4 separate regions of the Homo sapiens genome follow, and all the other regions are reported to be linked to region 1. The links are microRNA targets in miRTarBase. Many come from high-throughput screens and were not tested one by one. Region 1 holds a microRNA gene; each other region holds the end of a gene's coding sequence.

The links. The annotated mature microRNA hsa-miR-548a-3p reads CAAAACUGGCAAUUACUUUUGC and lies in region 1 at 3,966-3,987, shown strand. An mRNA with a match to its seed (bases 2 to 7 or 8) in the 3' UTR can be bound and repressed. Matches are read on the target gene's strand: a 7mer-m8 pairs with bases 2 to 8, a 7mer-A1 pairs with bases 2 to 7 and ends in A, and an 8mer does both.
Region 2: miRTarBase lists ERP44 as a target of hsa-miR-548a-3p. Seed matches in the 3' UTR shown: 7mer-A1 at 6,174-6,180, 7mer-A1 at 5,060-5,066 and 7mer-m8 at 3,068-3,074.
Region 3: the mRNA of GRAMD1C is a reported target of hsa-miR-548a-3p. Seed matches in the 3' UTR shown: 7mer-A1 at 1,323-1,329 and 7mer-A1 at 1,604-1,610.
Region 4: miRTarBase lists ECHS1 as a target of hsa-miR-548a-3p. Seed matches in the 3' UTR shown: 8mer at 1,277-1,284.

What each region holds. Positions count from the first base shown.
Region 1 is chr8:104,481,254-104,488,370 of GRCh38, reverse strand. MIR548A3 (microRNA 548a-3) reads left to right here and starts at 3,906; the gene lies at 3,906-4,002. LOC105375691 (a long non-coding RNA gene) reads right to left here. Exons shown (of 3, transcript XR_928507.3): 3 at 4,084-4,122. RefSeq lists a silencer at 5,584-5,784.
Region 2 is chr9:99,976,176-99,983,295 of GRCh38, forward strand. ERP44 (endoplasmic reticulum protein 44) reads right to left here. Exons shown (of 12, transcript NM_015051.3): 12 at 3,010-6,538. The coding sequence ends at 6,437. Among named protein-coding and RNA genes, the nearest start is that of STX17, 73 kb to the left of the region's middle.
Region 3 is chr3:113,944,865-113,951,984 of GRCh38, forward strand. It overlaps GRAMD1C (GRAM domain containing 1C), which reads left to right. Exons shown (of 18, transcript NM_017577.5): 18 at 534-2,310. The coding sequence ends at 614. ZDHHC23 (zDHHC palmitoyltransferase 23) reads left to right here and starts at 3,149. Exons shown (of 5, transcript NM_001320466.2): 1 at 3,149-3,326; 2 at 3,822-4,099. The coding sequence starts at 3,939. RefSeq lists an enhancer at 2,567-3,067 and silencers at 2,782-3,281, 3,632-3,731.
Region 4 is chr10:133,356,970-133,364,089 of GRCh38, reverse strand. It overlaps ECHS1 (enoyl-CoA hydratase, short chain 1), which reads left to right. Exons shown (of 8, transcript NM_004092.4): 8 at 1,157-1,605. The coding sequence ends at 1,222. It overlaps FUOM (fucose mutarotase), which reads left to right and starts at 6,071. Exons shown (of 6, transcript NM_001098483.3): 1 at 6,071-6,167; 2 at 6,835-6,903; 3 at 7,077-7,120. The coding sequence starts at 6,083. RefSeq lists silencers at 4,648-4,810, 5,843-5,922, 5,973-6,592 and an enhancer at 6,743-6,842.

The sequences.
Region 1 (7,117 bases):
CATTTCCATATTATTTGGGTATGTTTCTACACTGTATTTTCTTCTGTTGATCTGCTTTTCTCTTTTTGTACCAATCCTTTATTGTTTTAATAACTGTGATTTTTAAGTGTTTCAAATATTCTTATTTATATTTCCATTTGAATGACAATCAATTTGTTGAGTTCCACAAAACATCCATGGGTACTTTTTTTTTTTTTGGACAGTTTTAATTTTATAGATTAATTTAGGGGAATTTGACATCATTATCATGTTAAAGCTTTTTATCTAAACCATGGTGCACTATCTAAAAATCATGCCCCTTCATCTTTTTTTGTTTCCTTCAGATGAATTTTACACTTTACAGAGATCTCATACATTTTTAAGAGTTTATTTTTTTTAATTTTTACATTTTATTGCCTTTATTAATGAAATCCTGTTTATAATTTTGCCTAATTTTAGTGCATGTAAAGGCCAATTATTTATGTTAATTTTCTACCTGGCTACCTGATTCCATTTTTTTGTTGTTTTTAATAGTATTTCACTTAATTAGTTTGTGTTTGCCAACTACACAGTCCTGTCATCAGCAAACACTGATAATGTAACCATTGTTACAGTTTGCATTCCTCTTTGTATCTTAATTGCATTGTCTAGTACTTCTAAAATAATGTTCAATAACTGGCTATAATGAATTGAGTTGAGATAGATTTAATCATATTAAGGAGTATCAACTAATCCCTAGTCTTAAAACTTTTTAAAGACTGCATGTTTAATTTTATCACATGCCTTTTCGACATCTGTGGAGATGATCATATGATTTTTTTTCCTTTGATCCTTTAAGATGAATTTTACTAATATATTTTGTAATTTTGCACTATCATTACATTCTTTAAATAAATTCTTTTTGGCCATGTGTATTTTTTTAATATATTGCTAGACTGCACTTCATATTTTATTTAGGATATTTGCACTTGTATTAATCAGTAGTCTATAGTTTGTGTGTGCATGCATACACGTGTTCACTTTGAGAAGTGTAGTATTTTATGCTTGTGGATTTGGAAACTTCCCTCCTTTTACAATGCCCTAGAACAGTTTAAATAGCATTGAAATTTTCTGTTTCTTAAAATTTCAGTGAAATTATCTGGGTTTCATGGATGTTTGGCAAGCAGCTTTTTGACAACTTTGTTGGTATCATCTAGGTAATTAATCCATGTAGTTTTTATATCCTATCTGGATCAGGAACCATCCATTTAATCCCAAGTTTTCAAATTTATTTGCCTAGTTGAGGAAAGTTAACTCTTCGTCTTCTATGCATGTGGATGTTGCCCCTTAGTTTGTATTATGCTTTCTCCCTTATTTTCTTTTTTTTTTTTTTTTTTTTTTTTTTTTTTTGAGACGGAGTGTCGCTCTGTCGCCCAGGCTGGAGTACAGTGGCACGATCTCTGCTCACTGCAAGCTCTGCCTTCCAGATTCATGCCATTCTCCTGCATCAACGTCGTAAGTAGCTGGGACTACAGGCGCCCGCCACCAGGCCCGGCTAATTTTTTTGTATTTTTAGTAGAGACGGGGTTTCACCGTATTAGCCAGGATGGTCTCGATCTCCTAACCTCGTGATCCGCCTGCCTCGGCCTCCCAAAGTTTCTCCCTTATTTTCTTGATAAAGGTAGCTAACAGTTTACCTACTTTTTTAATTGTGTATTTTTTTATTTTCCCCAAACCGCTTGGATGTCTCTATTCTGTAATTTTGTTCTTTCTAATTAGTTGATTTCCACTTTAATAAGTTTTCCACATTTTGCTTTCCTTGGTTTATTTTGTTTTTTTCTAACTCGAGTTAGCATGTAATTTATTTTTACTTCTTAATTCTTAAGAAGAGATGAAGACATGGACTTAAGTGTGAGCACTGCTTAAGGCGAATCATTTGGCTGCATTAATGTCATTACTGTTATTTTCTAAATGTTCTTAAGTTTCAGTTTTGATACCTTCTTTAATCCAAAAGTTGTATAAAAGAAGTTTTTTTCTTTGCTTTTTTTTCTAGATAATGATAATTTTTTGGTGTGAGTCTTAGTTTTGTTTTCTGATTCTTTTCATTTTATGGCATCAAAAACAGAATGTTAAGAGTATATGTGTTGGGGGGGCGGTTATTGTCTTTCAATTTTTAAATGTCCCAAGAGCACTTTTAGAAAGTGTGTTATTTCTTTACAGGATACAGATTTTAGTGGGAGTTACTCAGATTTTAGATCTTCTCAACAGGATACAGTCCTTTGTCTTGTCAGTCAGAGCACCAATATTAGTAGGGAAGAGAATGGAAACAAAAGGAGCTGTTATCAGAAGGGATCTATGGGCCAGAAGCCCTGTTACTGGCTCATGTCATACACTAGCACTAAGAATATAAAAGCACAGGATGAAGGGGTCTTTCAATAAGCTGTTGAGGTTTTAATTCTCACTACTGCTTACCACCGTCATCCACTGTTCATCTGGAAATAAGTGGGTAAGACAGGCTAAATGGGATAAAGGAAGAACAAGTTCATTGAATTCTCTAAGTGTTTATTGAGCACCTACAACAGACCCAGCAATGTTCACAGCAGTTTACAGCGGCCCTCCTTTCACCTGCTCCACCATTCCCTCACACCTTTTCCCCCAAATTTCCAGGGGAGAAGATGACAGCAACTTGATAGGACCTGCTTTACTCAGGAAGGTCCCTGTTTAAAAATTAGTAGAAGCAGGCAGTAGAGAGAAAGGCCTTTTCTCTGAATACCTGAACTCTTCTTCAGGAATAGCATACAAATTGCAAATTGTATATAGTTATTGGCATGAGCTGATAGCTGGCTGTGATTGCATTTGTTTCCTAAGGTAATCAACATTCAAGGTAGACAAAGGATGCTAAGTAAAATTCACAGAATTTTAGAGCTGGAAGGAATCTTAAAATGAAGTAACAGACATAGCTGTTTAGTCGGGAATTTTCTAGACTTAAATCAATTATATACCCATATTATGTTATACATACAGGTAAACATAGGCCATGTATGCATACATGGTTTACCATCATGTGATGTCATGAGGTTTTTTCCTATTAGAAGTCAGGCCATTCTGACATTTTTGCACGTGCCTGCTCCTAAATGAGTGCATCCCACACCGTGATGGTATTCACACCATCAAATGCTATTCTGCGAGCCTTTTACCACCAGCTGCTTCTGCATTATAGGAATTTTCAAAGCAATAATATTTGCCCATTGTTGAGTGCCTATCACCTGCCAATTTCTTTATATGTATCCTTGGAATCTTCACAGTCCTGTGAAGTAACAAACTTACCTTCTATTTATCCAAGGTCATATAGCCAATAAGGGCAGAACTAAGATTTAACCTTAGTCGTGCCTGACTCAACAGCTGTGAATAAGATGGATCATAAAGTGAAGTAAGATTTATCAGGAGAAATATCTATCAAGCTGGAGTTGACAGACCTGGATTATTATGCCAACTCACTGAGCCTCAGCTTTGTCATCTTGAGGTAAGGATAATAGCTTCTTCATAAGATCATTGTGAGGAATAAAGATAACGTGTAAAGGCCTTAGCACTTGTTCTGTCCATCTATTGCTGCATAAAAAACTACCCCCAAACTTTGTGCTTAAAGCAACCACAATCATTCAGTTTTCTCACAAATCAATAATGTGGGCAGAGCTCAGTGGTATTGGCTCATTCTGCTCCTCTTGGCCTCTGCTGGAGTTGGAGAATATACTCCCCAAAGAACTCACCTGAGTGACTGGCAGGTTTGTGCTGCCTGTCAGCTGGGTGCTCAGCCAGGAGCCTGGGATCCTCTTCATATGAGTCTCCTCAAGGTTGCTTATGTTTCCTTAGAGCATGGAAGCTGGACCCAAGAATGAATGTTACAGTATACAGAAGCTGCAAGGCTCTTATGACAGAGTCTCAGACATCCTAGAATGTTATTAGGTCGGTGCAAAAGTAATTGCGAGTTTTACCATTACTTTCAATGGCAAAACTGGCAATTACTTTTGCACCAACGTAATACTTCTGCCACATTCTACGTGTCAAATCACTGGCCAACCCAGATTCAGTAGGAAAAGAAATAGACTCACCTCTAAATAAAAGGAATAGCAGGTAAGTCATTCCATCTTTACCCCAGCACAGTACCTAATACATAGCAAGAAACATTAAGTTGCCATTATTAATATTTTAAGTAGAAAAAGTTTTACAGCCTTAGAAATGTATTTGCTAAAAGGATATAAAATTAACTCTGCTCCACTGTCATGTCAGGCATGTATGTGTATCTCATATCTGTTTATTACAAATACAAGGATAAAACAATTTGCCTTAGCATATTCAGTCAGAAATCACAGCATTGATGCAATTTTAAATAAACATATTTAGGCAGTTGGTAAAATTTAAAGATTAGCAGTTATTTCTCTACATTTAAAATAACTTGTATTAATATTTCAACATGTTGTAACCTATAAAATGTTTATTTTAAAATTGCTTAGAGGCAACAGTATAGTGCGTAAAAGTCTGGAGTCAGATTGCTTGGATTCTAATTTCTGTCCAACTCCTTACTGGCATGTGCCTTTCAGGAAGTCAATCACCTGTACTTCCATTCTTCATCTGTAAAATGGGGATAATAGGGCTACTGGAGGATCAAACAAATTAATATACATAATGCTCTGGGAACAGCATTGTAATATACACATAGCAGCTCTTGGCTTATAGTAGGTGCTGTGTAACTGTTTGCTATTATTGTCATTGTTTAAATGTTAAAACATCTGACCAGGTACGGTGGCTCATGCCTGTAATCCCAGCACTTTGACAGGCCAGGTGGGCAGATCACCTGAGGTCAGGAGTTCAAGACCAGCCTGGCCAACATGGTGAAACCCTGTCTCTATTAAAAATACAAAAATTAGCCGGGTGTGGTGGTGCATGCCTGTAATCCCAGCTACTTGGGAGGCTGAGGCGGGAGGATTGCTTGAACCCGGGAGGTGGAGGTTGCAGGATCCGAGATCACACCACTGCACTCCAGCCTGGGTGACAGAGCAAGACTCCGTCTCAAAAAAATCTCTGAATCTTACATTTAAATAAGCTATCGTACATGAAAAGTTCTAAAATAATAGTGGTTTCTGAAGAGAAATAGAAACAGATCATTTTCCATTTCTTATGTGTGCTTATTCCTGGGATCATGAAAGTGAATTGCAACCCAGAACAAAGGTCAATAAGAGAGCAGGGGAGAAGAAAGGATAACAGCCCACTTGTGATAAGTTAATAGAATTCCAAGACCAAGCAGACACAGATGAAAGGATCCTGCAGAGTTCAGGGGGCCCAAGGAAGTTACCTTAGTGACAGGGAACTAAAGCGAGGTCTTTACAGAACTCCTAGATCCGGATGTTTTTCAGATCACGTTGTTATCTTGTTGTAGCAAACACTACTAATTTGCATACCCAGTATCCATGAAAAGAAAAGCCTCATTTTAAGGGTGATGGAAAAGGAAGAGAAAAAGCCTGATTTCACTGAGCAGTTGCATCAACCTTGGCCTGGCTATCTCTGGACTTCTAGTTCCATGAAAAAAATAAACCTGTATGTATTTAAGCAACTGGTAGGCTTCTCAGTTACCCATGGAGTAACCTTCTTAACCAGTCTACTGGCTCTTAAGTCAGGAATAGTAACGGTGGAGTAGAGGATTAAATGAGATGATGTGAATGCAGCAGAACAGTGATGAGGAGGCACATATCAATGGAGCTCAATCAATGAGTTCAATCAATGTAGGTGCTCTGTCAATGTAGCTCCAGTTGATGGGTTCTCTCAGTAAACTGCTCATCCTTGTGTTCTCCTAACAGCAGTTCTATTTATATGTTGGACTTTCCTGCAAGATTTCATTTGAACAGAGGGTTTTAAGGATTAATACAATTTGAAAACTAGTGTTAGAACATCACAGGACCAAGTCGCCTTCTCCTACGTAGGACACACCTGGTTTACTGAGAATGAAATGAGAATTTGCTTAGAGTGTTTTCCAGTAAGGATACTGAGGTGTCAATTAGGGCAGGTTTTCCCATATGTTGGAAGGAAGCTCAAACCCCAAAAAGCTTAATATCCCCCAAAAAGTGACTTGGAAGCTTTACTAAGGAGAAGTAATAGAGTACAGTGAGATGGAAAAGCATGGGCTTTGGAGTCAGGCACATCAAAATTTGAATTGTGTCCACTACTAAAGAGGTCTTTTTTTTTTTTTTTTTTTAGACCGAGTCTTGCTCTGTCGCCCAGGCTGGAGTGCAATGGTGTGATCTTGGCTCACTGCAACCTCCGCCTCCCGGGTTCAAGTGATTCTCCTGCCTCAGCCTCCTGAGTAGCTGGGATTACAAACGCACGCCACCACGCCCAGCTAATTTTTGTATTTTTAGTAAAGACAGGGTTTCACCATGTTGGTCAGGCTGGTCTCCAACTCCTGACCTCGTGATCCGCCTGCCTTGGCCTCCCAAAGTGCTGGGATTACAGGTGTGAGCCACAGCACCCAGCCTAGAGTTTTGTAACTGAATAAATCACTTGATTTTCTTGTCTCATCTGGAAAATGGGATCACACCTACCCTTAAGGGTTACCAGTGAAAAGATCAAATTTTTAAAAAAGCAAGAAAAAAATTATGCAGAAGCCTTTCCTGGAGCTTTACGCATAGAGATTGAAAACAAATTTTAATTGTCAATATCATAGATTCACTTTCCAAAATAAAACAGTATTTTAAAAGAGCTCCCCTATACCATGTATTAAGCATTTTGTGTATTACTAGAGCTTTCTGAAAGAGCAGGTTTCTTATAATAGCCACTGTCCTGTTTTCTTGGTTATAGGGCAACTTGTGGCTGTATCTCAATGAAAACTAACTTCACTAAACAAAGGTAGAGTGATGTCTTGGCTCACTCCTTTTTATTATTTACAGAAGCCAAAATAAAGAACTTCCATGGAGCCCTAGAACAGAAAAGACGTGGCTACTTCCTGTGGGCTTAGCAACATATGTTGAGCTCGTAATAATAACAGAAGTTATGATAAAAAGCAACATATAAACAATATTCAATGGAATATTCTCAATTGCATTATAATGGGAGCAGCTTTTTAAGATATTTCTGTATTACTGCTGAGCTCTGATTTCAAGTGACCCTG
Region 2 (7,120 bases), not on the chromosome of region 1:
TACACTGGGGGTCAACAATTCAGGATGTCCTTAACTCTTCTTCCTACCTTGACACCTTGCTATCTATCTCACAGGGTGGTTATGAGGATTAAAAGACTAAATTCATATTCAGTGCCTAGAATAGTGCCTGGCTTCTGCTAACTGTGCAAATGTTAGTTGCTGTTACTGTTAGAATTGTTACTATTTTTTCCCAAAGTTTAAAGGAAATGCACATTAATTTAAAAAAGGTATCATGTACCTACAAGAATAGTGTTAGGGAGACACCTAAAATGAGTGGAGACTTGAGAAATACACTAAGAATCCTTAAAATGATTTTTTCAAAAGGCTTTATTAAGACGGTTCAAAGATGACAGATGCCTGGTAGAAAGTGCATCTTTTTCATCTTTATTAAGAATGATATCCAAACATGAAAATATGTAAGATCTGGTTAGGAGCAGGGTGATCATACATCCCAGTTTGTCTGGGACAGTCCTGATTTACATCTGTTGTCCTGGTGAAATTACTAATGCTCCCTTTTCATCTCAATGTCCTGATTTGGATGAATACAATTACATGGTCACCTTAGTAATAAGGGCAATGAAAATAAGTGTGGCATTATTAAAAAAAAGAGCATCTATATTTTAAAAGAATTGATCATTTCTAGGCTCAGATAAAAAACAAAATCCCAACGTTAGTGGGAACGTATACATGCAAGTTAAATTACTACCAGTAATTGTGAAAAACAAGACAATAGAAAATGTTCCAGAACACTGAGCTTGGGCAAAAGGCTAAATTTAAGGCGTAAAAGCTGGATTCCAGAAGCCACAGACCAGGAAATTTACCTTTGAATCCTGGAAAATTTCTGAAATGGACACTTAGTGTTTTAAATCAGAAAGCCGTGCTCATTCTGAAGTCAGAATTGATCACTCAGAATTGATGACCTGTTCTATAATCCTTGCTGTGTGCATAGCCAGGAATGCCATGTTCTATTCCCCTTCCTAGGCAGTAGCTAGGGCAAGAAAACAAGGCATCAGGATTCTAATATTGATCTAATCCTATGTAGGCAAGTTTATACAGGGCACCAGGACAGTAGGCATGTGGTTTCTTCCCTGGTAGCCATGGCAATAAGTAAAACACATGGGACATGTTGTTATTACCTGAGAGGACTAGAACTGTGAGAAAAAAACAGGTCAGCAATACCTAACAATACTTTTATTACAGTAAGATAATAGAATAATGACAGTCTTTATTAATAACAATTCTCCTGGAGAAGAGCCTGATGTGCTTAGGAAAGTATAGCTCTTTCTATTCTGAGCAAGAAAGCACTTCCTCTAGGAAGACTCCCAATTCCCAAGGCTGTACACACCTACCTCCATGTTCTCTGCGACTAACTCACATCCTAGCACCTACAACATTCCATTATTTACACATCTATTTTGCTCCTTCACTCAACTTTCAGCTCCTTGATGGTAGGTACAGTCTCCTTACTGTTAGATCTGTAGCCTGGAAACAGTAGATAATGCTTGCTGAATGGCAGATGAATGGTGTTTTGAAAACCACAACAGGGATATTTTGTCAACTCAAGTCTGTTGCTCCGTGAGGCCAAGCTAGGGGTCAGGTTTACCTCACAGCAAATGTGGAGTTCAGAAATTTTCCAGCACCTCTGCAGGACTCTGCATTACCCAAGAGGGTATTCAGATGTCATTCTGATAGTTATGTATCTCTGGGTTGGTGCGCACTGTAAGATTTTAATCTATTCTAGACAAAAACTCTTAGGACCCCAAAGCCGGATTCAGATACAGGATTAAAGGTGACTAGATTCACCTAAACACGATTTGTGATGGACAGAATCATCAGATAATTGAGATTTGCAGATTAACCAGTAGAGCTCATTCCACTTACGGCGATGCTTTCTTGTTCTTTATTCATTTGCTCACATACTTATTATTTAATTTGGCCTTTTTTTTTTTTTCCATCAGAGATTTCCTGAGTACTTTCAGTGTCACCAAGTGCTGGGATTACAAAGATAGAGGAGTTCGTGCTTTCAGGGCATTCACACAGTGATAAGGAAGAGAGATACGTACACTTCTAACTCTGAATTAGACTGGGTACTCTAAAATCCATAAAGGACTGTGGGATCACAGGGAGTGACAAGTGTTATTAGGCACTAAGGATGAATAGGAGGAATTTACTAAGCAGGGTTGGGGGAAGGGGTCTTTTAGAGAAGCAATTTGTAAGCTGCACTGTTCCTCTTCTGGTGACTCCAAAACCTATTGTTTAAGGGCAGGCCAGCCTTTCCCCAGTGTGTTCTTCAAGAGGGAACTTGGATGCTTGCTTCAATGAAAGGCTGGGTTTGAGTGATCACATGGATTCATATAGCTTCCCATTCTGATCAGTACAATTAAATTACCTGGGAAATAACTTTAAATCTGAAAAATCTAGCAACTGTGGTCATCTAGATTCTGAGTAAAGGGTTTACAATATGATGTTATTTATAACAAAGTGAATTAGTAAAAAGTCTCCAATATAGAAATATTTTATAAATATAATTTTATTACTTGGAAATACATACAAAAATTCAAACACAGCTAAAAAACAGTTGCTAAGCAGAGGTCCTATCCAACCTGGTTTAATGAACATAAAGTTATTATCAGCATAAAACTTGAGTCCTGAAACAACTTACTGTCTTCAGGGTCTTCAAATAATGGGTTTAAAAACAGATAACTGTTTTGTTCTTTACAGCTATTTAAATCTTTCCCCCAAATACAGAGTACTAACATTTGTTTGGTTCATGAGGTTTTATTTTAGAAAAATAGCTAAAGCTATTAGCTAATGATTTGAAAACTGCAGTACGTTTGCTCATTTCCAGTCTTCTGTCACCTTACATTCTCCATGGTTTCTCAAAAATTCCCAACAGTTGTTAATAGAAAGCATTTGCAACCTCCAGCAGCTCTCTAGGATACAGAAGTGTGGGTCTAACAACCTTGAAATCATTTAAGGTGACAACAATTTTTTTTTTTTTACTTTTCATTTTTGCAGTTTCATGTCATTTTATTTTGGTCCAGCCATATCTCCTTGTAGGAGAAAAAAAACTGAGTTATTCTGTTCTTCCTGATTGTCAATCCATTACACTACTTTATCCATTCCTTTTTGCCCTCAGGTTTAAAAAAGAAAAAAAAAAAAGCCTTCTTGACAACCTTAGCATTTTCTATAAATTTAAGCTTATTGTGAGCTTGAACATTTCAAACACTTCTATATTTCACTCTCCTCTCTGTAGCTTTTGTCATGCCAGTTTTCCCTTCTTTTGCAAATGATCTTTGACAACCTGGCTTCATCAGAGAGCTCTGAGATGCCTTAGATGCCCATTCTCTATCTTATTGGCTAGGTTCTTTTAATTTAAAGAAAAAAATAATTTGTAGAATGTCATCTAAAAGTTTCCATCCTTTTATGGTCCCCCTCACAATTTGAAAAACTCGAAGAGGTAGCTGGCTAAGAAGCAGAAAGGCCCCCTTTTGGTTCTGGGGACTCAACCGTGTTCTTCAGTCTGGTCTTGCATCCTCTCTTCCCAGCTGAGAAGCCTGAGGCCCCGAGTAGATCAGATAAACCGGGGAAGACTTCTACCTGAAATGGTCTGATTCACGGTTCAGAGGGGGAACAAGTCTAAATTTGAGACGTGCTTCCACACTATTCTTTCTCAAACTTTAAAGTGAACATACTTCCTTGCTTGCAATCTGTTGATGGATCTCTTCTGCCTACAATATATACTACAAACCCCTTAGTCTGGCACACAAGGCCCTGTGTGACCAGCTCCCATTTCTTTTTCTAGCTTCCCCAACCCCAAATGCCTTACTAAAAGAACTTTTTTCTCTAATGCATTAGGCTGTTTCATACCTTTGCTCAGATTATTCCCTCTCAGCCAGATCCCTACCTCCTGAGAACACCTATTCATCTTTTTAAAGCTCAAAATAAAAATAATGTCCTCAAATCTCTGCAATTGAGTGCTCCTTTATGCCCTCTTTAACCTTTATTTTGTCTTTACATCTATAACACGTTACAGTCATTGTTTACATATCCATATGCCTGACTAGGCTGTGAACAACTCTAGGGCAGAAATAATGCTTTATTCAGCTTTACATCTTTCATCATATACTACAGCACCAAAAAACTTGCACTGAATAAATGTCAGACTGAAATCTGCTTCCCTGTGACTTCCTCAAATCCTAGTTCAAGCCCTGGGATCCAGATAGACAGTGCCAGCATTTCAAATAATATCTAAAGACTGTCCCAGTCCCAAGTCTTCTCCAAGCAAAACAGCCTTAACATCCATGTTTTAAAAACCTTTTTATCCACGCTGTCCTTTCATCCAAGCACTTGAGCTTAGTGACTTTTTATAAAATTAGGCACCAAGTCCTAATGAGTGCTGAGCCCCTCAGGGTAAAAAAGTAACCAAGGTCACTTTGCTTCTCATTCATTAAATAAACGCCTGATGGTGACTACTAAGTGTCCAGAAATTCTAGGCACTAGTGATACAGACATTAAATTTAGTTTCCTTGTCCTCAGTGACTTCACAGTCCAGAGAAGACAATGATAGTGGCAGGGCTAGAGCCTAAGCCCAATATGCATGAATGCTAAGTAATACTTCCTCAAATCAACTCCCTTTTTAACAGCCACTTTATCATCTTAGAGCATACTGAACACGTACTCCTTGAGGCCTTTTTCATAATAACTACTCTCAAGCCAGCTCTCTGCAACCTAACCCTTGAATTGTATCTTTTGTTGATTATTTTTTCAAACCCAGTTACAGGATTACTATATTATTCCAGTTGATTGCATGTGCTGCTCTTGGTCCTGTGTGCTACCTTGTTGAATGTGAATTTCCATGCTGACCCTCACAGATCTGGTCCATAATCTAACCTGAAGACCATAACTCTAACTTCATTTAACTTATTGGTTAAAAGCAATGAGGATAACAGAACTAAGGCCCAACCTCTAGAAAGCTCCATCCTACTTTCTTATTCACAATTTGATACAATACATTAAATATACCCCTTATCACCTTATTAACATTTATTATTTTGAATAAAACTATGGAAACTTTGGATAAATCATGCATAACGAGGAATTATAAGCTGGTTTTTAAAAATAACAATCATTAAATATCCATTATAAATATTAATTTTATTTTAAAAGAATTGGAAGATGTTACATATATTACATACTACATATAATGGCACATGTCAGCCTTTTAAGCTTAAAAATAATCTTTTCCCAAACTGGGATTGATTTATACCCAAGTATAAAATGACCCTTGGCCTATAGCACCAACCCAGGCCCAGAGGAAAAGCCAGTTTTGAACCTGTCTGTCCTCTGGCACTGGGCTTCCTGATATGACACTGAGGGTCCTCTCCCTCTGGTTTTATTCCCTGGCAGTATTGAGGCCTGGCACAGGGACCCATCTTACTGTATGCTGCAGGCCTGGGGAAATCAGGGAATCTAGAGGGGGTAGGGTCCTCTAACCATTTTATAATGAAAAAAAGTTAAATATGTTCCTTATTCTGTGTTTTTGATTTATACAACTATAACAAGACTCTACAAGACAGAAGGAGCTTAAAATTACTGAAATACAATTTCTCTGCTAGTTCTTCTCTTTGGAAATTGAAGTCTCATAATAGGAGGAGCCTTAAAAGTCATCTAGTTCTGATTGGTAGCCTGTTCCACTGTCACCTCCCTGTCCCAGATTTAGGTATAATTCATTCAAAGTTTTAAATGCCATCCATATGCCACATTTTTAGACAAACACAGAAGCTTAATAATACTTTTCATTTTCTTTTTCTTGTTTCATAAGGACAATTCCTGCCAAATGTTCTGTCTTATGACTCTCCTCCACTTCAAAGTATGTTTAAGTTACACATTAAGAATCCAAAAAAATACCACTATGGAATTTTCATAAGCAATATCCAACCAATCAGTAAAACACAGTACACAGTGTGAAAACTTTAATTTATTCCCCTCCCAAGTATCCAGAATGTATATCTCTTTAGCTTTGAGAAATGAGATACTGAAAATACCAACAGAATTGATCATATGAAAGAAAGAAAAGCACATACGACACAGGAAACATCCCTAAGTCCTCCCTACCCTAGTAGTGCAAGTTAATGGTAAGTTTCTGGCAATGTCACCTTTCATTTGATTTATAAAACTTTTACAGGACAGATTTAAAGTGGAGATAGGCCTCTGATTTTTATTTTTAAATCCTAGCAGGTTTTTTTTTTTTAAGAGGCTACTATATTAAATGACAATGCATTTTGAGTCGGGGAGAAAAAAATTAAAAACCCAAAATTTCTTTCTGTTTATTCAAAATAAAAATACACATAGAATTATGAAAATATAGGTTTACTATTTCCACCACGTAGGTTGATGCTGCTGTTGAAAGGCTTACAAACTGTTTTTCAAGTTTTTAAAGCTCATCTCGATCCCTCAATAGAGTATACCTATATTCACTGGGTGCTAGTTTCTGGAAGGAGCTCTCAGGTGGACTGCTTGCTACATCTTGGGCTTGCTACAAAAGAAAGAATAAAACATTTTTATACCAATATAGTTTATGGTGCTATAATATTTTAATAAGTGTATTCGATGAATAGTAGTTCCCCTATAATTATTTGCTTATTAATCAATAAAAGCAACTGTGTGCCAAAGCAAGATATTTAAATGTGAAATCTTGCTTTCCTCATTTCAAATGCTCTTATTGAGATTCTCCAGGGCAGGGTTGCCACAGGGCCATTAACTGTGGGCTTGTTTTACATTTGCTGAGGTGTGGTGGAAGGGACCAAAATACCTGACACCTGGGTGCTTTCCTAGACTAGTCGACAGAGACAGCACAACCCTAGGTTGGCCCAAACCCTTCCCTTCTGCACGTGACTGCTAAGAGAATTAATGGCATCCACTCTGTAGATATTATCTTAGTTATCAATTACCAGGATACCAGAAATTATTACAACTTAGTTGAAATAAAGAGGAAAGCAAACACTTCAATGCTGAAAGAAATTAATTTCTGTAGTATTTTACTTGTGTACCAAGAGCAGACAAAAATACACAGTGAAACGAGCTATTTCCAAGAATTTTAAAGAAAAGGCATAATCCC
Region 3 (7,120 bases), not on the chromosome of region 1:
AAATGAGATGTCCAGGTGTATTGTTAATGACAAAGATTACAAAATTCAGTGTCAAAGTGTTAAGTAGTAAGGATAATGCTTTGGGAGTTTATAGGCAGAATGACTGGGGAAAACTACATGAAGAGTGTGAATATGAGTAAGTTTTAGGTGAAGAACATGAGGATGAGAGCATGCAAAGGCACTGAAGCAAACTTGAGTTGTTTAGGGGATAGTGAGGAGACCACTGCAACTTCAGAAATCTTTTAGGAAAACGAGTCTGTCACTACGCTTAATTTGATTAATGGACCTATTGGGAGGTAGACTATGTAGCAGTAGGAAGAAGTACAATACTCCAGCAAATGGGAAGAACTCTGTAGCAATCATACTGATAGATACCCCAAAGAATCAGGTATTTTGTATTTAACGTTTTATTTGGGCATCAGTATAAACAAAACTATATTAAGTGTCACTGTAAATTTTGGGCATAAAAAACAGAAATTTTCAAATCTGATTAGAAAAATTAATCTGATTTTGAAAATTAACTTTGTTTACAGCTGAAGAGCTCACTCATTATGCTTCAGAAAACGTTTGATCTACTAAATAAGAATAAGACTGGCATGGCTGTTGAAAGCTAGTGATCTGAAGGACTAAAACCGCAGAGATACTTGGAACTTAAAGAAAATACCTGGAAGAAAACCAGACGAATGAAGGATTTTGGCATAGAACATTTCTATGTTTTTTCATTATTGAGATTTCTAATATGAACATTTCTTTCAGTAACATTTATTTGATAATTAGTTTCTGCTGGCCTTAATAATCCATCCTTTCACTTCTTATAGATATTTTTAAGCTGTGAATTTCTTCAGTGAACCATGAAATATATTATAGAACTGAATTTCTCTGATACAAAAAGAAAATGACACACCCTGAATTGAGTGGTATGGTCTCATTTCTACAGTGAAGTCTGATGCTTTGTTAGCACAGAATCCGTACATGTCCAATAGGTCGCTTTTGTAACTGAGATAAGACCAAGAGGATAAACAGGACAATATAAGAAGAAACCTCTATGTCATTACTGATTTTAAAGGTTCTGTTTTCAGGCATATAACATTTCCAGGTTTGTGTACTGTAAAGATTATAATGTCTTCATTTATTTAGCATGCAAATTTAATAGTCAAACTTTTTGAATCTGCATGTTGATGATGATTATCAGAAAGGGTCTTCTGCCATGCTGTATCTTTATGAAAGAAATAGTTGTTTTTTCTTAAGGTAACTATCAGAGGTGGGATTATCTTGCCTCCTCACTTAGAATACCAACAGTCAAAAGGAAGAACCATCCTCTGAGTTTTAAAAACCAGAAGGTTATGTTAAAATCTGGGCATTTAGTGACAGATCAAATGCATACTTGAACTAAGATTGGCTTCAGCTTAGCAGTCTTTCATGGTGGAAGTGACACATCTGGTTGAAAATAATTTGTGTATTTTCAGTAACCATGTATGGCTTCCTTCTTTATGTATGTGTGTGACTTGTTTTGATTGGTAAGTTATAAGCCAGACATAGATTTTAGCTCTTTAATAAAAACTTCAGGGGCACGTATGTCCCAGTACAAGTGTACTGACTATCAAGTTTTAACTCAGATGCAAGCTTTGGCTCTTTCATAAAAAGTTTTTATGCATATGTGTCTCCATACAAGTGGCTCATTAAAATAAGAACTTTGTAAACTGACTTAAAATCAGATATTTTTTCAAGAGTTAGGGAAAGTTGAAGTGTTTTACTGTTTTGTCTCTTGAGCCCTTTCTCTGGGGAAAAAATACATATCCATCTATCTATCTATATATAAACTGTGTATACATTCTTACTGTTTGAACAACTATTGCCTTTAATTAAATGTTTCATTTTTCTCCAGAGTCCCCAAAGCCACATGGCATTATTATAGTCATTTTTGAGATGCCTGTAGAGAATGAAAGTATTGACTCCGTTAGAGGGAAAATGGGTTTCTCTGGGTGAATTCCAACGAAGCATACCTAGGGGTAACAGTGAACCTACCTGGGTTTGTTTTGTTTTGGTAAGGATTTATGTAGTGTCTGGCTGTAAGCAAGAATGAGTGGATTATAAACTTGAAGATTTCTCTGTTAAAGTCACAAAAATGATCGACAAACAATATTTTTGTGATGTTTATTTAAACGTTGTATTTTATAACATACTTCAAGGAAGAGTATCGAAGTAAGTTGCTTTATAAATTAAGACTAAATTCGTATGGATGCAGAATTCAATTAATAAAATTTGAGCCTGTTACGTAAATTGAATATTAATAAAATTGAAAATTTCTGAGTTGTAGTTTTTCTTCTTTTTCTACTTAAAAACAAAACTAGAAAGCCTGCGGTAGTGAAACGTGTACATGGGCCCACACTCTTTAAAGAAATTTTGTGCAATAATAAAACCCAAAAAGGACTCTCATCTCAGGGCAGTTTCATCTCAAATACACAGACGACTGGAACAAAAGTACTAGCGAGGCCTGCTGGTCCAATGTAAAGGCTGCTAGCCAGAAATCATGAAACGAACAGGTTGCTAAATGAACAGATCCGGCAGCAGTGATGGGCCTTTAAGAGAAGGTCAGCGAAACTGGGGGAGGTACTTGGATAACATTTTGCGGTGGAAAGCTCCCTCACCGCCTGTTGCCGGAGTCTGAATGAAGGCTGGCGGCTCCACGGTCTCACGTAGTTCGGAAATCCTCCGGGTTCCCGGGTTTCCCGTATTTCCGTCTCCGCACCTCGTCCGCACCCCGGGGCTCCGGAGGCTGTCCCACCGGCGCGCCGCCCGCAGGCACCGGCGGCGCCCGGCTGCCGCCTCTGGGGCGGGGCGGGGCGTGGCGTGGCGGGGCAGGCCGGAGGTGCGGGACCCACCTCCTGCCCCTGCCTCCTGGACGCGCTCTCGGGAGCCGATTTTCCCCTTCCCGGCGCCAGGGCCGCGGGCCAGGAGGAGGAGCCTCGCCCGCGGGCACCGCGGGGAGGCGGGCGGCGCACGTGCGGACAGGCGGGGAACCCCGGCGCCGGGGGCGGGGCACCCGGAAGCGCGCGTGGACCTGGCGCACCGAGCCGGGCGGGCGGAGGGGCGGTTGGGACGGCGCGGGGAGGCGGGCGCGCCGCCCGGGCCGCGGCGGGCTGTGGTCACAGGTGGGCGGCTGCGGCGAGGGAGCGGCCGAGCGGAGCCCGGGTCCCGGAGACTCCTGCCGTCACGCCCGGGGCTCCGCGTAGCAGAGATCGGGAGACGCGTCTGTGCCTCCGGGGAAGCCGACCCATCTCCCCTCCGCCTCTTTGGCTGCAGTTGCACCTCCGGCCAGAGGGCAGGTAACTTCCCTTCCAAGGTCATTCTCCTGGCGGGGTGGTGCGCGAGGCCCGCCCACGTCCTCCGGATTGGCGGGGGCGGGAGAGGCGCACCCTGCAAGGGGCCCGACCAGTTGGGCTGGACCGCGACCCCTGAGCACTGCCAGGGAGCCTGGTGTGTCAGCCGCTGCTAGCGGGCATATGCTTCGCCTTTCCCTATAGCCCCGAGGCTGAGTTCCCACCAGCGCCCAGGCTTGGAGCGGAGACCGCTCGGCCCTCCCAGCCTGCACCCGCAGGTGAGCGCAACCGCCCGCGCCCCGGCTGTCCCGGACGCGTGGTCGGCTGTCGCCATAGGAACGGCTGGTGCCCAGACGGCGCCTGCCCAGGCTGGGAAGGGGCGGTGAAGGCAGCTCAGACCTCCAAGAACCCTGGAGCCCCCTGTGTGGCCAGGCGGAGCCACAGAAGCCTGATGAAAACGGGACCCCCTCCCCCTCTCTCTTCTCATTTTTGATTGCTCAGGCGTTGGAGGTTAAGCAGAGAGAGAGAGGCGTGGACCTATTTACGAGATGTAAGTTGTGTTCTTTCCACCTTTACCTTCTGAGGGCTTCTTACGCCTCATGGTGACAGGTGCAAATCATGACACAGAAGGGCAGTATGAAGCCTGTGAAGAAAAAGAAAACCGAAGAACCTGAATTGGAGCCCCTGTGCTGCTGCGAGTACATAGATCGGAATGGGGAAAAGAACCACGTGGCTACTTGTTTGTGTGATTGTCAAGATCTGGATGAAGGGTGTGATCGGTAAGAACAGAGCATTTCTTGACGCTGGCCCCATCACCCTTCTGAGAACTGCCATGTGTACTTTCAACCTAGCCACCCAGAATGCTAGAATTTGCTCTTGATTCTATTTCCAAGCATCTAAAATGAGAGTTGGCTTCTGTGTCAAGTGTGAGGATTTTAGAAAGATGGATTACGCAGTAGTGCACAGCTGTCTGTCTGCTCTGTTTTATAGGATATTATTTTTCGTTTAAAGAGAGATGAGGGAGAGAACAGGCAGTTTAAAGGGATAGTAGGCAAGTTAGTATAAAATAAAATGCAAGCCAGCAGAATCTGTAAGTTTAAAATGAACACAATAGTTCCAGAAAGTTCCTGCCTTCTCAGAGGTCTCAGCATTTAGAGACTGACTACTTGGGACTGGGTGGCACCTGACCACAGAGGGCCTTGTGGGTTGAAATTTCATTTTCCTGCTGTTAGTACTGGTCTTGCCCCTTGTTTCTGGGGAGGAACTCCAGCCAGAAGGCATGTATCTCCCCTGGATTCACAGTTTTCAGTGCGACCAGCAACACTCTTGATTGATCATACTGTATTTGGCTTTTATTTTCCAAGTGATGGAAATTACTATCCAAAAAGAGAATTTTTAACATCACTGAAAAAATTTGGTGTCGGACAGTGAATAATCTGGTTTTAATCCATTTTCTGAGTAATTATATATTTAAAAATCACTGTCAATGGAAGTCATAATGTGGGAAGGATAGGGATGTTGGAAACTTGCTTTTCCCATTAATAATTATTTCTGGTTAAAAAAGTCATTGCAACTGCCAATTTGTTGACTTAGAACTTGATACATTAATACAGCCATGAAAAGCATTCCCTGGGGTCTGCAGTCTAGTACCAGCCTTGACTATTAAAAACCCAGTGAACCCTTTGTCGTTCTTACTTGACAGTGTACTGTGTAGTCTTTTTTATGGATGTCTTTGAATATAGGTTCTTTAGATTTAGTCTGAAATCTATACTGAGAAAATAGAGCACTTTGCACTAATGAATGGAGAAATGATGCTGTTTCCATAACCACCATCACTCAAGACCGCAGCTCTTCCATTAACCTTGCTAACTCTTCCTCCCTCCTAGCCCTGGAGACCTTGGCTGTCCCCTGAGGCATCTCCTCTGCTCTCTCTGTACCCCTCTCCTCTGTGTTTCCACCGTGCCTGCTGCTCTGTATGATTCCCAATTAGTTATCTCTAAGTTCTAGTCTTACCTTTAAAAATTGTCTAAAATCAAAGTTACCTTTCCTTAAACTCTACCTTTTCTTACTAGCCTGTCTTAATTTGTTCAGGCTGCTATGATAAAATAAATACCTGAGACTGGGTAATTTGTAAACAATATACATCTATTGCTCACAGTTCTAGAGGCTCAGAAATCCAAGATCAAGGCACTGGCAGATTCAGTGTCTGGTGAGGGCCCTTTTCCTCATAGATGACACCTTCTTGGTGTGTCATGACATGGCAGAAGGGGTGAATAAGCTCATAGGGCTCTATTATAAGGGCACAAGTCTCATTCATGAGGGCTGTGCCTTCATGACCTAATCACCTCCTTAAGGTCTCACCTCTGAATACTATTGCATTGGGAATGAGGTTTCAACATAATGAACTTTGGAGGGACACAGATACTTCCTGGCTCCCTAAAATTTATGTCCTTCTCACATGCAAAATACACTGATTTCATCCTAATAGCCCCAAAAGTCTTAGCTCATCCCAGTGTCAATTCAGAAGTCTAAGTCCAGAGTCTGGTCTGAATATCATCATCCAAATCAGATATGGATGAGTTTCAAGATACGATTCATCCTGAGACAAGTTCTCCTCCACATGTGAGCCTGTGAAATCAAACAAGTTAGGTGCTTCCACAATACGATGGTAGGACATGCATAGAATAGACATTCCCATTCCAAAAGGGAACAACAGGAAGAAAGGAGTGTTACTGACAGGTCCTAACCCAGTGGGGCAAACAATGTTAAGCCTTAATAAGGCTTGAGAATAATCTTGGACTTGATGTCCTGCCTTCTGGACACACTGGGTTGGCGGTTGGGCCCCCAAGGCTCTGGGTGTCCCCGCCACCACAGCTTTGTTGCGCACAGCCCACACTGCAGCTCTCATGGGTTGGAGTTCCTACAGGTGCCTCCAGCTCTCCCAGGCTGGAGTTGTATGCTTGTGGCTCTACGGGGCTCTTGGGGGTGACCCTGTCCCCACAGCTCCAAGCAGGCATTGCCTCAGTGGGGTCTCTCTGTAGTGGCCCCACCACAATGACAGCTCCACTGGGCAGTGCCCTAGTGGGGGCTCTCTGTGGTGGCCCCACCCCTGTGGCAGTCCTCTGCCTCGGTCCCGAGGCTCTCCAGGGCATCCTTTGAAGTCTAGGTGGAGGCAGCCAGGCCTCTACAGCTCCTACACTCTGGATGCCTGCAGCATTGGCACCCTGTGGATGCCACCAAGATTTACCACCTATGCCCTTCAGAGGGGTGGCCTCTATGGCATACCTAGGCCCAGTGGAGCCACACCTGGAGCTGCCATGGAGGGTGCACCAGAATGTAGGGAGCAGAGACTTCAGATGGCACTCAGCAGTACACCCTGAAGCCCCATGGGTGCCCTGGGCCCTCTTATGAAACTGTCTGCCCTCAAAGCCCTGGCACTTCAGGTTTGTGGTGGGAGCAGCAGCCCCAAGGATCTCCGAATGCCTTCAGGGTCCTTCCATTGTCTTGATGACTGGCACGGGGCTAATCCATACTGATCTCATCTACATCCTTGCTGTTCTCTCCCAAACATGCTTTCTCATTTGTTACAATATAGACAGGCTGAGAATTTTCCAAATCTTTGTTTTACTCCCCTTTTGATTATGAGTTTTGTCTTTAAATTATTTCTCTTTGGCTGGGCGCGGTGACTCACACCTGTAATCCCAGCACTTTGGGAAGCCCAGGTGGGCAGATCACCTGAGGTCAGGAGTTCAAGACCAGCCTGAACGACATGGAGAAACCCCGTCTCTACTAAAAATACA
Region 4 (7,120 bases), not on the chromosome of region 1:
GCCTGTAATCCCAGCTACTCTGGAAGTTGAGGCAGGAGAATCGCTTGAACCCAGAGGCGGAGATTACAGTGAGCCGAGATCACGCCACTGCACTCCAGCCTGGGAGACAGAGTGAGACTCTGTCTGAAAAAAAAAATGTAACTCATTTTACCCATGTTTTTTTAGATCATTCCAATTATTTGGAATAGGCTCAAATGTATTCTAATAAGATAAGCTGAAGCTTTAGAGCAATATTTTATAAGATTTCTGCCAGTAACTTAAAGTAATTCCTCTAATTACCATCATAATTTTAATTTTCTTCCCTTTGAGGCAGAGTCTTGCTCGGTCGTCCAGGCTGGAATGCAGTGGTGAGATCTCAGCTCACTGCAACCTCCACCTCCTGGGTTCAAGTGATTCTCCTGCTTCAGCCTCCCGAGTAGCTGGGATTACAGGTGCCCACCACCACACCTGGCTAATTTTTGTATTTTTAGTAGAGACAGAGTTTCACCATGTTGGCCAGGCTGGTCTTGAACTCCTGACCTCAAGTGATCTGCCTGCCTCGGCCTCCCACAGTGCTGGGATTATAGGCGTGAGCCACTGCACCCGGCCAGATTACCATTTTAATTCATGTCTTTCACTGGGAGAAAGTCATACTTCGGTGTTTTAATTGTTCTATAAAATAAAAATTAAAAGTGGTTTGGGCACCTGAGGAAGGGGTACAGATGCGTGTGTGTGTGTGTGTGTGTGTGTGTGTGCGCGCGCGCACACCTGGGGACACACGTGCACACAGTGTAAGAAAAGCAGATGCAGAGTTGAGTTCTCACGTCCTACTCCAACACAGAGTAGCCCCTGATACAGGCCACCCATCATCCAGTTGATGACATGGTGAGTGACCAAGATGGGTGCATCTGAGGCTCTTTAGATGTGAGCTTGTTGGACATACACAGTGGCTCCTGAATGACCGTCACCTAGACTGGTAGAGAGAGGCCGTGAAAATCCCCGCGCCCAGGCCCAGCTCTGATTGGGCAGGTGTTCCTGCCGCTGAGTCCCCTCCCCGGCCCCCTGGGCCCCTGTGAGCATGAGTGAGGCAGAGCCAGGGAGAGACGGGCGGACATTGGCATCAGGCTCTGTGAGGATACTGCGCGTCCAGCTCTGTTTCTGTTCCTTTTCCTGCCAGGATGACCGGAAAGAAGGGATGACCGCGTTTGTGGAAAAGAGAAAGGCCAACTTCAAAGACCAGTGAGAACCAGCTGCCCCTGCTTCACACCTCTGCTTGGAGAGGACAAGTGCAGCCTGTCAGTTTTAGAAGCAAGTAAATCATCCTCTTTTCAAGAGCAGTGTCCGTGGTGTGCAGTTCCTCTCCAATTGCTGCGTGGTCGTGGCCCGACCTCTCACGGCATGACAGCCTTCGTCACCCAGCCTGTGAGGGTCCTGACTGGAGCACCTTCTAAATCTAAGATTCTGCTGAGGAGCCCCCGCTGGTCCCTCTGGGCATGCTGTGCTCGGACGGAAAGCGGGGCCTGCGGGTCCTTGTGTCCCTGCCGCTGAAGAATGGGGCTGCTCTGAGGGAAACGCTGTCTGCTGCCTTCATACAGATGCTGATTAAAGTGATAGCGATTCAGATTACACCACGCCTTGTAGTCATGTCTGCAATGAGCATTCTGTCATGTTAGTTGTTTTTTTAAACTTTTTTGTTTTTTCACTGTAAGGAACAACATTCAAACAAAACAAGTTTGTATAGTCAGTTGCCTCACATCATACTTCCAGGGTAGCCACTGTGAACAGCTGGGCTTGTGACTTCCTAGAGTTCTGTGCACGCACCCACACACCCCTGCACACGGGCACAGGCATGGTCTATGGTTTTCTTCCACGCCCACTCACGTCGAGCCCTTTCCTCACGAGAGCCCACCCTATTTTCTTCCTACTTCTGTCATAAGGAGCTCTCTGTTCAGTTTACTGCATTCTTCTCTACTGTGGGAACACACGACGTCAACTTGATCATCTTAACCACTGTGTTTTAGAGACGGGCTGGAGTGCGTGGCTCAGTCACAGCTCACTGCAGCTTGAATCTCCTGGGCTCAAGTGATCCTCCCCCCCTCCCAAGTAGCTGGGACCACAGGGGCGCACTCCCACACCCAGCTGACTGTTTAAATTTACCTTTTGTAGAGACGGGGTTTCCCCGTGTTGCCCAGGCTGGTCTGAACCATTTCAAATGCACATTTCAGCGGCATTAAGTACGTTCTCGTTGTGCAGCCATGACTATCCAAGAAAGCTTTCATTTTCCCAAACGGAAACTGTCCCCGTTAAACAACAACCCCTTTTCTGCTTCCCTCCAGCTCCTGGCACCCACGCTTCTACTTCCTGTCTCTATGGAGGGACCTCCATTTATCCCTTTGGGTCAGGCTCATTTCACTCAGCCCCACCCCAAATCCCTGGGTTGAAATCCTAACCCCTACCGTGACTGCATTAGGAGGGGGGACTTTGGGCAATGACTAGTCACAAGGGCAGAGCTCTTCGAGTGGGTTTAGTGTCCTAGGAGAGAGAGGGTGGAGCTCCTCCAGTGGGATTAGTGCCCTATGAGGGGGCGGAGCTCCTCCAGTGGGATTAGTGCCCTATGAGGGCAGAGCTCTTCAAGTGGGATTAGTGCCCTATGAGGGGGCAGAGCTCTTTGGGATTAGTGCCCTGTGAGAGGGCGGAGCTCTTTGAGTGGGATTAGTGCCCTATGAGAGGGCGGAGCTCCTTCAGTGGGATTAATGCCCTAAGAGAAGGCAGAGCTCTTCCAGTGGGATTAGTGCCCTATGAGAGGATGGAGCTCTTCCAGTGAGATTAGTGCCCTATGAGAGGGCGGAGCTCCTCCAGTGGGATTACTGCCCTATGAGAAGATGGAGCTCTTTGAGTGGGATTAGTGCCCTATGAGAGGGCGGAGCTCCTCCAGTGGGATTAGTGCCCTATGAGGGGGCGGAGCTCCTCCAGTGGGATTACTGCCCTTAGGAGAGCCCTGAGGGCACTCTTTCACCCCTCCCACAATGTGAGTGCTCTGTGGGAAGGTGCTGTCTGTAAACCAGGGTGGGCCTCATCACACACCGAACCTGCCTGGAGCCTTGGCCTCCAGAACTGTGGAAAGTCAGTGTTTATCAGCCACCCAGACCATGCCACTGCATCACAGCAGCCCAAGCTAAGGCACATACTGTCCAGAAGGTTTGTGCCTGTTGTGGCATGTTTCACCATTTGATTTTCTCACTAAATGACAGTCCTATAACATTCTTTTTAGTGGCCCTGACGTTTCATACTATGGACATGTCATCATGCCCTTGGTTCTAGGTATTTCCCCCAGGGAAGCCCACCTGCCCCCAGCTCAGTGCAGACGCCAGAGAGCGTTTGCCGGTGTCTCCTCCACTTGGCCCCGCAGCTCAGTGTGCGTAGGTGGTCTAGATTGTGGTCATGGCCTTGGGTTGGGTGGGCAGAGTGTGTGAGCCCCCACCGCTGAGGACTTGGGCTGAATACCAAGGACAGGTTCACCTGCATCAAGAAAGAAGAACAGTGATCTTTGCCGAGCTCTGGTTCCCTGAACGCTGCAGGTGCCACGCCCGTGTGTCCGGTTACATGTACACGCAAAGGGGACACACGCATGCTCTGCGACCGCTTGCCTCGGAGGCATTGGCTCTGCACTCCCACCCACCCCGTCTGTCCTCCTGTGTGCTGTGATTGGAGTCCACTAGTTCAGAGCCGGCTTCAGGGTGGAGCAGGTTTATCTCGCTTCTGCCAGGGCAGGTGGGAGTTCTCATGCAGTTGGCCTTAAAACAGGCGGGAGATGTTCTTTTCAGATAAGCCTCAGATAAGCCTTGGGATCTGGGACTGTTTGACAAATACTGAAACAGGTACAAAGGGAGTTTGATTCAGGTCCAACAGGGCATAACAGGCTCTTCCCTTGGGGTAGGGAATCTGGAACCTGCTCACTTACTGGAGTGGAGCACGTGGAGTCTGCGTGGGTCATGAACCACTGGCCCTGGAGCCTGGAGTAAATATGCAGAGATAGATAGGCACCAAATGTTCAAGTATGCAAGGGAGGAAGCCTGAACATTGAGAAAATCCACTCCGTTTAATTTTTCATGTGCACTGGGGTCAGCCTCCATAATCTGATTTCAAGCAATGGAACCTCAGAGATCCGTAGGGCTGGCTGCAGCCTCACGTTCATACCTGTGTCAGCCACACTTGGCTGGAAGCCAAGAAAGGGCCCAGCATGGAAGCCGCATCTCAGAGGGCTGCGTCTAGTTATCTGGTTCCAGAGCTTGGCAGGGACAGACACCCAACCCTTAGGCTGGGGAATGGACTTTGTCTTCATGCTGGCCCCAGGGAGCCTGGAGGGAGGGGTGCCACTGTCCGGGGCAGGGGAACCCCAGACTCAGAGTGAGGCTTCCACTCACTCCTGAGCTAGTTGACCTCTGGCCCCATTATTGTTTGGGGTTTGATTAGGTGTTTTTTCTTTGTTGGTTTTGTTTTTTTTTTTGAGACGGAGTCACTTTCTGTCACCCAGGCTGGAGAGCAGTGGAGTGATCTCGGCTCACTGCACCCTCCGCTTCCCGGGTTCAAGCAATTCTCGTGCCTCAGCCTCCCAAGTAGCTGGGATTACAGGCACCAGTCACCATGCCTGGCTAATTTTTGTATATTTTGAAGAGACGGGGTTTCACCATGTTGGCCAGGCTGGTCTCCAACCCCTGACCTCAAGTGATCCGCCCGCCTCGGCCTCCCAAAGTGCTGGGATCACAGGTGTGAGCCACCGCGCCCGGCCTGATTTGGTTTTGAAGCTGAAAACTTTCTTGCCCATCTCTATAAAATCCTCTTGCCCTTGTATATTTGGGTAAACGGTGACTCTCCACTTACAAGTTGGAGTAGAAACTGCCCAGGTACAGCTCTGAAACCCGGTGGCCTCGGTGCAAAGCCACCCCTCATTGGCAGGCCCTGGGCAGCCCCGGTCTTCTCTCTGCCCGAGTGGCCGGCCCAGGGCCAGCTGTTCAGGTGCTGCTGGGTGCCAGCCTGGGTGGCCCCACCAGGCTTTTCCGACGCAGCCCAGGCCACTTCCCATGGGGACAGGCTCCTAGGGCCAAGCAGTTCAACATGGAGACGTCTGTTTCCTCCTGGTTTTCTGACGCGGCTTTGTCATTTTTCACATACAGATTGATTTTCAGAACTTTTTAGGAGCCGCCAGGCCTCAGAGCATTTGTGTCACCTCAGGGCTGAGGGCCAGGGCCGCAGTGCTAGCCCCACAGCTGGTGTCCAGCTGGGAATCATGTGGAAGAAGGTGGTTCCGCGGAGGGAGGGCCTGGCCAGCCTGAGCTCAGCCAAAGGTCAGGATGCCGCCATCCTGGGCAGGGGGTTGCAGGCCGCTGACACCGGGGGATGATGGAGGACCCTTAGGTGTCCTGGCACTTCGCAGCTGAGCCTGGAAGCTGGGCCTGGCTGCCCTCCTGGACTCCCCCCAAGGGGGTCCGAAGTCCTGGCTCCCGTGTCCCTTGCTCCCGGTCCCTCAGGAGCGTGGGCTGAAGGCCTGGGTCCAGCTACCCACCATGGTGACCCCAGGGACCCGGTGCGCTCCGGGCATTCTGCCAGGCCTAAGGGCAGCACGAAGTGGTCAGAGGGCAGAGACCCTCATGAGGGGAGGCCGCGGCGGTTGAACCCCTTCGGCCTGAGGGAGCTCGGGGTGGGAGGCTCGGGTAGGGACACTGGGGAGCCCCCGGCCACAGCGCAAGGGCACCCGAGTCTCGGACCTGGCGAGGAGCCCGTGGGCTGGCTGGGTGTTGCCCCCACGCCACGACTCAGCCCGCACGTCCCCAGTTCCTGGGGCTCCCCGCCCTTCCTTGAGCCGCAAGCGGACCCCAGCCCGCCGAACCCTAGGCCCGGCCCGTCCCCAAGCCCCAAGCCCGGGACCCTAAAGCCCCGCCCTCCAATAAAGCCCCGCCCTCCCCGTAAAGCCCCGCCTCTGCCCCTAAGCCCCGCCCTCCCCGTAAGGCCCCCGCCTCTGCCCCCAAGCCCCGCCCTCCCCGTAAGGCCCCGCCCCGGCCCCCAAGCCCCGCCCCTAGGCCCCGCCCGCCCCGTCTGCCGGGCCATGGTGGCGCTGAAGGGTGTCCCCGCACTGCTGTCCCCCGAGCTGCTCTACGCGCTGGCGCGGATGGGGCACGGGGACGAGATCGGTGAGCGCAGCGGGCCGGGGCCTCGGGGAGCACCCCGGGACAGGCAGGAGGGCGAGGCTTGCACGGGGACCCCCGGGCCGGGAAGGGCCGCGTCCTGGGGTGTGGGCGTTGCTCGGGCCTCCCTGGCTTCCGGGCAGGAAGCCCCCTCCCCCGCATTCTTTAGGGAACTGAGACCTCGTGGGGCTCTGGGCGGAGCCGGCCCGAGCTTCTCCCGGAGTCCCTCCCCAGACGGCCCGAGAGCCCTCGCGTCTGGGCTGCCCCCGAGGGTTCGGCGCTTTTTCTTCTCCTGGGGCCTGGGGTCCCGGGGCAGGGGTTGGGTGGCCGGGGGCCTGGTCCGGGCATCGCGGGCAGCCGCGCGTCCTCTGGCCCCTGGGGAGGCGGCCGGGTCCGGGTCGGCCCCCTGGCCTGGTCAGCACCCGACAGCCTCGCGGGCAGCTGTTGACGCCTCTCTGCCTCCCAGGCAGGGACCTTGCCCTCCCCACCTCCCCGCGTGGCTTCCAGCCCTGCGGATCTGACTGCGGCCGGTCGGCGGTGGGGGCGCCCAACTGGCTGACCTGAGACCTCTTGTGACCCACGATCTGCCGCCATGACTGGGTGGGAGGACGGGCGGCGCCGACCCCGAGGGCAGGGATAGGTGCCGACACGGGCTGTCCTCCCGGCTGTTTAGTTCTTGCGGACTTGAACTTCCCGGCCTCCTCCATCTGCCAGTGTGGGCCCATGGAGATCCGTGCAGACGGTGAGCGAGCCCCAGGTCCCCCAGGGCAGGGCGGGCGGGTGAGCGGTGCTCCTGGCTCTGAGGCTCCTCTGTGGCCTGCCGTGGCCCCAAGTCCATGCTTGCAGTGTGAAGGGTGCAGACAGGCAGGCGGGCGGGCGGGCTGGAGACTGAGTGCTGCCTCCTCTGCCCTCCAGGCCTGGGCATCCCGCAGCTCCTGGAGGCCGTGCTGAAGCTGCTG